Linked DNA regions of Homo sapiens: region 2 is linked to region 1. The links come from fine-mapping of genetic effects on gene expression. Tissue or cell type: unexposed skin. Region 1 holds a variant in brackets; the other region holds the start of a gene. All regions are shown on one strand. Distances are between the middles of the regions.

Evidence for each region. PIP is the estimated chance that this variant, and not a neighbour inherited with it, causes the effect.
Region 2: BMPR1B starts here. The variant in region 1 is fine-mapped to the expression of BMPR1B in unexposed skin (GTEx, PIP 0.98).

The regions. Positions count from the first base shown.
Region 1 is chr4:94,784,251-94,789,627 of GRCh38, forward strand. The region is part of intron 1 of BMPR1B (bone morphogenetic protein receptor type 1B); the gene reads left to right. Among named protein-coding and RNA genes, the nearest start is that of BMPR1B, 29 kb to the left of the region's middle. The variant C/T (reference allele first, on the strand shown) is at 2,495.
Region 2 is chr4:94,754,801-94,760,177 of GRCh38, forward strand. BMPR1B (bone morphogenetic protein receptor type 1B) reads left to right here and starts at 3,155. Exons shown (of 13, transcript NM_001203.3): 1 at 3,155-3,268. BMPR1B-DT (BMPR1B divergent transcript) reads right to left here and starts at 2,733. Exons shown (of 3, transcript NR_121610.1): 1 at 2,594-2,733; 2 at 30-105.

The DNA of each region.
Region 1 (5,377 bases):
AAGAGACTTAGGAATCCAGGTATAGTAACCTAATGGAATGAGGTTGGGAGTGTAAGTAATTTTTCTGTTTTTTGGATGAACTTGTATAATATTAGGTTTTGTTCCTTGAAAGTTTGATAGAACTTTGTAAAATTATCTGAACTTACAAGATTACTTTTTAAACTACTTAGATTTCTTATTTGTTATGAGTTTTCAGGTCTCCTGTTTCTATTTGAATAGTTTTTCAAAATTATATTTACATTTTCTCTTTTGTGTAAACTTTTTAAAATTTTTTCTTTTTTTTGTTTGGTAGAGATGAGGTCTTGCTATGTGGCACAGACTAGTCTTATACTCCTGGCCTCAAGTGATCTTCCTGCCTTGGCCTCTCAAAGTGCTGGGATTACAGGTGTGAGCCACTGCACCCAGCCTAAATGTTAACATACATTGGCATAAAATTTATACTGGGCCCAGTTGATTTCTCTGCCCAGATTCATTTGGCTCCCTTCTCAAACCTCAGTTGCTTGTCCTACTTCCTTTTTAGAGTGGCCACAGTAGCAGCTCATGTCATTCTTGTGGTTGTAAAGCCCTGGCCATTTTCATTGTAACCTCATCTTTGATACCATACAGGTCATCTTAGCCTCCTCTTTGGTACAGCCTTCCTGTGACCTTTAGGGTAAGAGTCATAACAAATTCAAGGCATGATGTGCCGCATCTGGACCTACAAAGCCTCAAGCTTCACCAGCAGCTGCTTGGAGGGGTCAGGCCTCAAAATATTAATACAAGAAAGTTATGCTATGGAGCAAACACTGACCCATGAGTGGTGGGAGATAGAAAGGAGCTGAGACAAATGGTCTCCATTTAGCCTCTGTGGAGATATGCCTGTGACTTGTAGCTTACCGCGATTTCTTGCAAGGCCATAGCCAGTTTGTTAATGTACCACCTTATAGTTGTTTTCCTTCCTGTCCTGCCTCATTTCCCCTTTTCCCTTACTCTTCCTTCCCTGTGCTCACCAAAGAATTATTGACATGTAAACTTGGCCTCAAACTCTGATTTCTAAAGAATTCAGGCAAAACTAATTATAATCAGTGGTGCTCCTAGCACATATGTACTTAGGATGGGGTTAAATTAGATTGCTTCCCTCTTTGAAGGCTGTAAGGACTGCTAGTCGTCAGGGAGCTGACAATGACCTTGGCATGCAGTGGCATCACAATGACCACAGCTTTCAATGATGATAATTTTGCATAAGATATGGGTGAAAAGAAAGACATGTAGCTGTTGCATTTGATGGGCATGGGGGTGGGGCATGGATAACTGTAAGGATTTTGGTGTTTTGGCAGCATTAAAGACTTTAGAAAAGAAAAAGATGGGCCCCAGGTAGCTCACAGCCAGCTTAAGGCACACTGTGAAAGCCAGAGAACTGCTATAATTTCTTTAAGGGAGATCTCATTCCACATTCACAGAGAATATTATGTTGAAAATTAACCCCAAGATATAAGAGTGGCAAGGCTGCAGTATAAGACTGAAGGTACAGTTTTGACAGATCACCTGTCAAAGCCAGGGCTTTGATAGAGAAATAGTAGGATGCTGACACCTGGAAATGAGACCTCTGGGTATATGTGCTGAACAATATTGAATCCTTAATTTTTTCCAAGTCATTTTAGCCAGGAGAAAATAGCCCTACTTTCTCTGGATTCTATATAGTGACCTTTCCTGAAGTTAGTTCTATGTATGATTATGCTTATTCTCCTCAAGATCTGGCCACATCATCACTCACTACTTCTAGGCTGAATTGCTTAAGTAGCATCTTAGCATAGGCTAAGTGGGTAATTATGATCCCTGCTCTGTGAAGAATATAGTATATGTTAAAATAATATGCCATAATAATTCGGGTATTATGGAAACATTTGTAGAATAGATCTTGAGGACATGGGAAGATGAGAGGGCATGGAATATAAGGTTCTGCTGGATGAAGATGTATTATCATGCGGGTACTTACCCCTGTGTGATTTGGAATTACATGTTCTAGCAAGGGCATATGGAAATGTCAGAGCTTCTTTGGCATGTTATTGAGAAAGGGGTCAAAATTCATAGTGGGCAGAAATATTAGAAATATACTTTGTAAGACTTGAGAATTCACCACCTTTTTTTTTTTTTTTGAAGAGAGTCTCATTCTGTCACCCAAGCTAGAGTGTGGTGGCATGACCTTGGCTTACTGCAGCTTCAAACCCTTGGGCTCAAGTGACCTTTCCACCTCCCAAATAGCTAGGATTATGGGCATGTGCCACCACACTTAGCTAATTTTTATTTATTTATTTATTTATTTTTTTGAGACGGAGTCTCGCTCTGTTGCCCAGGCTGGAATGCAGTGGTGCGATCTCAGCTCACTGCAAGCTCCGCCTCCCGGATTCACACCATTCTCCTGCCTCAGCCTCCAAAGTAGCTGGGACTACAGGCACCCACCACCATGCCTGGTTAATTTTTTGTATTTTTTTTTTTAGTAGAGATGGGGCTTCAC[C/T]GTGTTAGCCAGGATAGTCTTGATCTCCTGACCTCGTGATCCACCCGCCTTTGCCTCCCAAAGTGCTGGGATTACAGGCGTGAGCCATCGTGCCCAGCCCACTTAGCTAATTTTTAATTTTTTTTGTAGAGGTAGGGTTATGCTGTGTTGCCTAGGCTGGTTTTGAACTCCTGGCCTCAAGTGATCCTCCTGCCTCAGTGTGCCTAAGTGCTGGGATTACAGGTGTGAGCCACTGCATCTGGCCGTAAACGTAACCACTTTTATTCCCCAGGACATTTTTTGTTTTACCAGGGCGACAAGGAATGAATTATTGACCCTATGGCTGAATGCCCAACCTGGGATCAATACCAAGCCCTTGATATGTAGGAGACCAGTTGCCGCCTAGTCTGATGGCAGATGGGTCATCTTGGAGGTCTTGGACCTTAAAAGACGTACTAAAGCATCCTTACCAGAATTGACATATACTCCACGTAGAGGTTTTTTATTCCCCTGCAGGCAGAGATCCTGCCAGTATCACCATGTGAATGTTCAGTCCATTGACTCAGGGCCTAATATGTTGATGGGGTTCAGGACAAGCTACTGAAACATGGCACCTTGGCTTATTAAATATTTTAAGCTAAAGGAATTTAAGAAATGGCATCTCCGGTTCTCCCCTGAAGCAGGTTATAAGGCCCTCATGTGACAGGTACCCTCCCTGTATCCAGAGGAAAGAAGTATTCTTATCTCTGAAGATTGGAAGGACAGTGAGAGGAGTCGAAGTGAACAGGCCTTGCTAAGTTTCGCCAGTTTATTACACTTAGCTCAGCCTCTTTGTCCTTTCATATATTTCCATAGCTCTTCATCAAATGAAACACAAAAACGCTCAGGTTTGACCACAAAAATGAAGGTTTAACCACGTCTTTGGTTCTTCATTTGCTTTAAGAATGGCTCCCATGTTATGTAAAACTTATATTAAATAAATCTGTATGCTTTTCTTTTGATAATCTTTTGTTACAGGGGCTCTAGGCGAGAACTTAGATGGGTAGAAAGAAAAGATATTTTTTCTTTCTTGCAATATCAATGTGGTAACCCACACAGTATTTCCTTTGACCAAGGGACCTATTTTATACTGGAACTCATGATCACAAGATTCACTGGAGTTAGTATGTTTCTAATACCCAGAAGCATTTGGATAGGAGGTTTGAGTGGCCTGTGGAATGGAATAAATATTCAGTAAAAGCAGCAACTTGTGGACAACTCCGTGGGGTTCAATGTGGTATATATGGGGCTGAGTTGGTAATAGAACAAGAGAATCTGAAAATCAAAGGGTGGAAGTTGGATTTACCTTCTGCCATCAGTTACAGTGACCCACTTGTAGATTTTGTGCTTCTTGTCCCTGCAGTCTTAAGCTCTCCCAGGTAAGAGGTCCTGATTCATGGAGGATGGGGTGAGGAACACTTTAGCCACAGGACACAGTAAGAATTCTCTTGACTGGAAGCTGCGACCACAATATATTCACTTTGAGCTTATGACAGTGCACCAGCAGGCATAAAGAAGCATTGGTAGACCAATGAACTGTGAACACCAGGAGGAGTTAAGGTTATTGCTACATACTGGGGACAGGGAGGAGTATCTCTGGCCCAGGGGATTCCCTGGGCTGTCTTCTGGTCTTTTGCTGCCTAGTGGCAACTGTGAATGGACATTTTGAACAGCCATAGCCTGACAAAAGCAAGGAAACTATAGGCCCAAGCCTTTTGGGAATAAAAGTCTGGGTCACCCCATAAGGCAAAAACCAGACCACCCAGAGCACTGGCTGTGGGTGAAGGGAATCTGACGTAGGAGGTGCAGGAGGGAGATGACAAACACAGATTTACAGGACCAGCTGCAAAAGGCACAAATCATACCTTGGTTTACTAAATCTCTTTCTAGGCAAGTGCAAGTGCAATTCTTCACAACCATGAAGAACTGGACTTGTACCTCTTCTCTTGGAGAAGAGATGAGGGCATCTTTTAGATCTGCCTTTCATAAGAGAGTGCAAATTAATCTGAGCGACAGAAGGAGAGGATTGCACCAGATCCAGTTTATCTGCCTCTCAAATCTTCTGCATCACGCCTGCCCAAGCCTGAGCAACTTGCTCTTCTTCCTCTTCGGCATGGCCCCAGGATATTCCCTGGCATAACTGTGATTGTCTGCTTGCTTCTGCCATCACCTCACCTTCTATCACATCTATCCCAGCCTCCCCTGAGGTGATGAAGGCCTGGCCTTTGCCCATTTGCTATCACTTGCACTGGGACAGGAGTTTCAGTAGCTCCAGTGCCCAGGTACCCCTGGATGGATTGGCTGTGTCTTAGAAGCTTTGCAGAGTGGCAGGAAGCACAACCTGGAAGTAAGAGGAGGTTAACACATGCATATTAAAGTCCAATTTTCGTTGCACATCACAATCCGATTGAGAAATGGTTCAGTGTTCTTGCATAGAACAAGAGAAGATGACACTTCAGCTCATGAGGCACCCACTTACCGAGTTTTTTCACCTTTACAATTTGCTTTAAACGCTGAACGACTGTGGAATGGTCAACGTTGAGTGCTTTGTCAACTTCTAGTATAGTTTTAAGAGGATCAGCTTCAATGATTGCTCTCAGTTGGTCATTGTCAACTTCCAGTGGTTTGGCCACTATGCTCCTCATCTTCAAGGTTCTCATCTCCTTTGAAAAGTGTCTTGAACCACCACTGCACTGTACGTTCATTAGCAGTTGCTGGGCTAAAGGCGTTGTTGATGTTGTGAGTTGTCTCCACTGCTTTATGACCCATTTGAACTTGAATAAAAAAATCACTTGAATTTACTTTTTGTCTAACATCATTTCCATAGTCTAAAATAAACATAAAATAAATAAGTAATAAGTCATT
Region 2 (5,377 bases), 29 kb before region 1:
TGTGCTTTCATTTCTCCCTCTCCAGGTACCTCTAAATGATCTCCTGAAAATCCCAGTCCACCATTTGACTCCGTGGCTTACAAATCTCCAGTGCTTCTCCATTACCTAATAAGGAAAAAATCAATTTCATTAGTATGTTTGAGAAGGTTATTTCTGAACCCTGCTTAGCCTAAGAGAGTCATCTGCTGCACCTTCTCCTCATCACTTGGATAGCAGCACTGAGATACCAGCTGTTCTCTAAACACGCCATGCTTTTTCATAGGGTTCTCCTTGCTTAGGATGTTTATTCTCTTTCTAGCCCCGCTTTGATCTCTAAAGATCCTTCAGGACCCTTATGAAATGTGACTACTCTAGGAAGGTTTTCCTGAGATTTCTAGGCAGAATAGTTCATTTTTCTATGCTCCAAAAATTGTGTGTTCATGCATTAATGCACTTCTCATAGAAAGTTCTATATATTTTTTAAGTATCTTGTTTCTTCTGTATTATGAGTTTCAAGAAGGAATGGACAGAGTTTGCCTCTCAAATACCAGGACTTGGTTTGTCATAGGCACTCAAAAATGTTGATTTTTGAATAGCTTCTTTCCAAGGCTCCCCATTCCTGCTTACAGAAATGTTACCATCTAAGGCCCACCTCAAACACAGTTTCCCCTGTACCCCATTTTCTCCCACCTGGAGTGCTTTTTTTTTTTCATCCCAAAGACCTACAGGAATTTCCTTTGTTCTCTGATTTGGAATTTTAAAAAATATATTTAAACAAGGTATTTAAAAAAATCTGTCTCCTTGTCTGCAAGTTGATTGAAGTGGAATCTGTGTCTTCTCTATCCAGAGATGCCTGTATTCCCTGAATCAGTATCTTATACCCAGCAGATTCTCTGAAGGATATTTGCTGAATGGAGGAGTTAAGCCAAGGAAAGATAATCCTTAGTGCAACTTCTGAAAAGATACAGGTGACAATACCACTAGCTCCAAAACATTCTGCATAATGTCTGCTTTATTTCACTGCAGTTTATGAGTGCTCCAATTCTAAGGGAGATTATACAGCTGTCAAATACAAATTATCAGTAATTCACACAGTAGAAAGGATAGATTCAATCAGGTTTCTTTCCTCTTTAAACTTGCTTAATGTTGATGAGATATTGACAATGATCAACACATTACATTTTTAGTTCTATGGATTTCCAGTAAATTCTCTAAGCTTTTCTATGTATACAATCATAAGCTCTGTAATGAATTATAATTTGGTATCTTATTTTCAATATTTAAAACTCATATTTCTAAACTCACATTTCATTTTCGATAATTTATTATTTTTAGTTAATTACATAATAGCTCATAATTCCTTGCTTTGTCTTTTATTTTAATGGTGTAGAAGTTATAATTTCCGTGTCTTCAAGCCCCCTTCTCCCCACAAAACACTTAGTTAATATGAGGATGGAGATGATGAAAAATTGGATTGAGGACCAGGTAGAAGGTAATTTAGGTAGTCATATGCTTTATTGTTTTGAAAGAAAGGAGGTGGAAAAGGGAAGGGGTGGGAGTGAGGGTATCAGAGAAGAATTGGGATGAGAGTAAAATGAATGGATTTTATCTTGGAATTCTTGGGGCAAGAGGATGAGTACTGGTACTGGGGACTGGAACAGTGGTTGAATAAGGAAGGTCAGATGATGTCAATGACTAATTTCACTTGTTTTGGAAATTTTCTTTCAGATACCTTTCTTCTTCCAGTTTGGCATTAGAAATCACAATGCAGATATATCATGGGGCAAAAAGACCTTTGTGGAGACTCTAACATTGCTTTTATAGAAAAAACATGACCACATCTTCATACACTCAATAAACACTGGGGGCACCGCCTGCTTTAAGTGCAAGCTGCATAAAATAAATTGATACACAAATGAATTTTTTATTGATAAGTGCAAAAAGATTACATTTAATGTTTAAAAAAGATTTAATAGAAACAATTTAAGAAAAGGGAGTAGTTGAAAGAAAATAGTAGGCTAAGAATTGAATATAGAAATAGATATGAAGAAAATTGGAAGAAAGTTACTTCAGGGTGAAAAACTGTTAAAAAAAAAAATGACTTAGATCACACACTTGGTGGTGACCAGAGACTGTTTGTCAATATTTTGGAGGAAAAAAATTTTACAGAAGGAGAAAATAAGTAATGCTGGAGAGTGGGAAGCTGAAAGGTATTGAAAGGAAAAGAGTATTTGGAAGTCACGAGATATCTCCCTGGGAAATAGAGTTGGCAAAATGGCTGATTTTAAAGAGGTTAACTATTCTCCCCAAATTTCTGACTGTGAACTAGCTTACTTTATATTTACCCACTTAGAAAGTGTTTCAACACTTAAAGACTTAGCAAGGAGACCACAAAGTATAAGACGTTACATACTTTTCCAAAAGAAACACGACTAACTGTAAACTGTCATCAAATACAAATGGAATGGGTTTTCTCTTTTGGGTTTTATTTTTTTATTTTTAATTTTTTGGTGGTTGTTTTCGTTTAACGGTTTCAAAAAATATGTAGAAGGGAAATATTTCATTTCCCTTGGACGCTCAACTGTATATATTTCAAGATTCTTAAAACCCCCACCTCAAACTGCAGGCTTAATTTTAATGTGTTCATTTTTTACAAGGTGTGTCAACGTTTTATCAATTTCTGAAAAGTGTCTATGGCCCCGAAAAGTTGAAATCCACGACATTATATCATCTCTGCGAGCCCTTTCCAGCTCTCAAGGTACAATAATTCCACGAATCTTTGTTCTTCAAACCAGGAGGTTTTCTGGAAACCTTCTTAAACAACCAGGACAGGACCCATGAGGGAAATCTTGGGGATGCTCTGAGCAGCGGACGGGGCTTGGGAAGCGCACCCCTGTACCCGGGCTGCCTCCGGCCCGCACCCCGCCGCTCCCCAAGTCGGCTCCGCACTCCGCACACAGGCGGCGGCGCTGGGGCCGCTCCAAGTGCGTTGAGAAGTGTAATCCCTCCGCTAAGTACTTGGCTCTCAGTCTCCAATCACTAGTGGGAGCTGGAGAGGGCAAGTGAAAAAAAAAAATTCCAGAGGCAGCCGAGGAGCGAGAGGGAAAAAAAAAAAAAAAAAAAAAAAAAGTCCCGCGGTGGCGGCGGCGGCGGCGGCGGAGCGGCCGCGGCGGCCAGAAGTTGACGGCGCAGCCGGGCGCGGGGCGCGGAGTCGGCGGGGCCTCGCGGGACGCCGGGCAGTGCGGAGACCGCGGCGCTGAGGACGCGGGAGCCGGGAGCGCAGCCGCGGGTAAGGCGCGCGCGGCGGGGCCCCGTCCCCTGCGGGTGGCCGAGTTCCCGAGCGCGCGGGAGGCGGCCGAGCCGGCGAGAGCCGGGCAGAGCGAGGGGCGGCGCGGGACGGGTAGCGGCTGGGTGCGGAGCTGGGCGGCGGTCGCCCTAGGCAGGACGGAGCGCGCGAGGGAGAGGGCGAGAGCGAGGGCGGGCTGCGCGGCCGTGGGGCGGTGGCGGCGGCGGGGAGGGGGTCAGGCGGTGGCCGCCTCGGCTTTGTGCGCGGGCGGCTCTGCCGGGACCCCGAGGCCTCGTGCCTGCGCAGGCGAGGAGTCGGGGCAGCGGCGGCGGCGGGCGGGACACGTGCTTCGGGCTGTAGGGACGCCCCAAGGCAGGGAGTCGGACCTGCGAGCGGAGGGATGGGGCGGGAGGGCGAGCTGAGGGCAGTCGCGGAATCCGGGAAATGGGAGGGAGCCCGGCGGGGCGGGGGCCCAGGGCCAGCCCAGGCGGGACCCGCAGGCACCCACCTGCCCCGGACGCCTCCCGAGACCCAGCCTTGCCGTGGGGGAAAGTGCGCAGCGGGCTGGTCCCGGCGCCTTGGACTGGGCTCCGTCTCTGCTTCAGTTGCCTGTCTCTTCTCCTCTCTCTCCTGCTTCTCTCTCTCTATGCCTCTCTCTCAAGTTCTGGGTCTTTCATTCTCTCCCTTTTCTTCCTTTCTCCCTTCCTCTCCTTATTGCTATCCTTTGCCTCTCCCCCCGGTCTCTCTTTCCTTCCGTGCGTCTGTCTCCCTCTCCCCACCGCCTGCTCTGGCTCTCCCAGTGTGTCCCTCCTCTGTCCCTTCATCCTCTTCCCTCTGTCACTTTCGCACAATCTTTTGGTCTCTCTCTCTCTCTCAAGAGGCTTTCGCTCCCGGTCTTCCTGGCTCCCCTGTCTCTTGCTCTCTGCGCCCATCTCTCTGCTCGTCCCTCTTTCTGTCCAGGCTCCGTGTTTCCGCCTGTGTTTGGCGGTGTTGGAGAAGAGCCTCTGGAAGTTGTCCGCTGTGGTGCGGGTCTTACTTCTTTAGAGCTGCACCCCTCCAGCTGGGTCCTGCTGTTTGTTCTGAATGGAAACGCTGCAGTTCCCTTGAGTTATTAGAAACTGCTCTTTTCTTAGCCACCTTTCCAGCAAGGTGAGGTCAGTGACTACGAGCGGCCACAAAGGTGCCAGTGAAAGACAACGGAGGAAGAGAGCCGTTTCACTACCTCCAACAGATAAAGAAAATGTGTTAATACCAAACTTACCTGCAGCAAAGCAGAGCCACCTGAGAAAAGGTTCTTGAGTTCTGCAAAGAAACATAAAAGGCTCCACTGGAAATGAGAGGGTTCAGCTAAAAAGTGTTTGCAAATAATTTGAAAAAGCACTTAATGGAAATCTCTTGCTGTGCTAAATTGATGCCAACGAATCTCTGTTTTCTTACATATATTTTTAGGATTCCAGTGACAACTCTCCTAATTATTGTTTTGGGCAAGTTATGGGAAATGTCCTGTGTCAACTGGGATGTTAGTATTTAAGAAAATATTCAGTCTTTGTACTTTATACCCCTTTACACTCTAGTGATCAAGAAGAATTATTTCTAGCTGTAAAGAAAATAGTAAAGGATTCGTCAGTAATTTTAAAACATGAGACATGCCGGTGATCAATAATGTTTTTGGAAAACTTTCATTATAAGGATGTTTTGAAGGATGTTACATCTTAGTGAAATATGTAAGTTATTACACACTTAGATCATTGTGCAATGCAAAAAAGTTTGTGTTATAAGCAGATCATAGTAGTGATGTCTTTTTATGGGAAACATAGCTGGGAAATTAATTGCTCTGATTTTCACTGTTTTCTTTAGTCATGCATAATGTACCTTTGTGTTTAGCAAAATATGGCCTAGAGCTACAAAACTTGATACAGTGTGTTATTTGTCCAATCTGAATTACCATTTAGAAAACCACCTTTTCCTTTTAGTTACATGATATAAGTTGATATGATCTCATTACTCATGTGCTAGGGGCCGCTGATGAATTTTAATGGCACTGATTTGTGTTTTTAAATCAAAATGTTAGTTTTTGGTGAGTTAAAATCTTGATTTATGTCATGTTAGTGA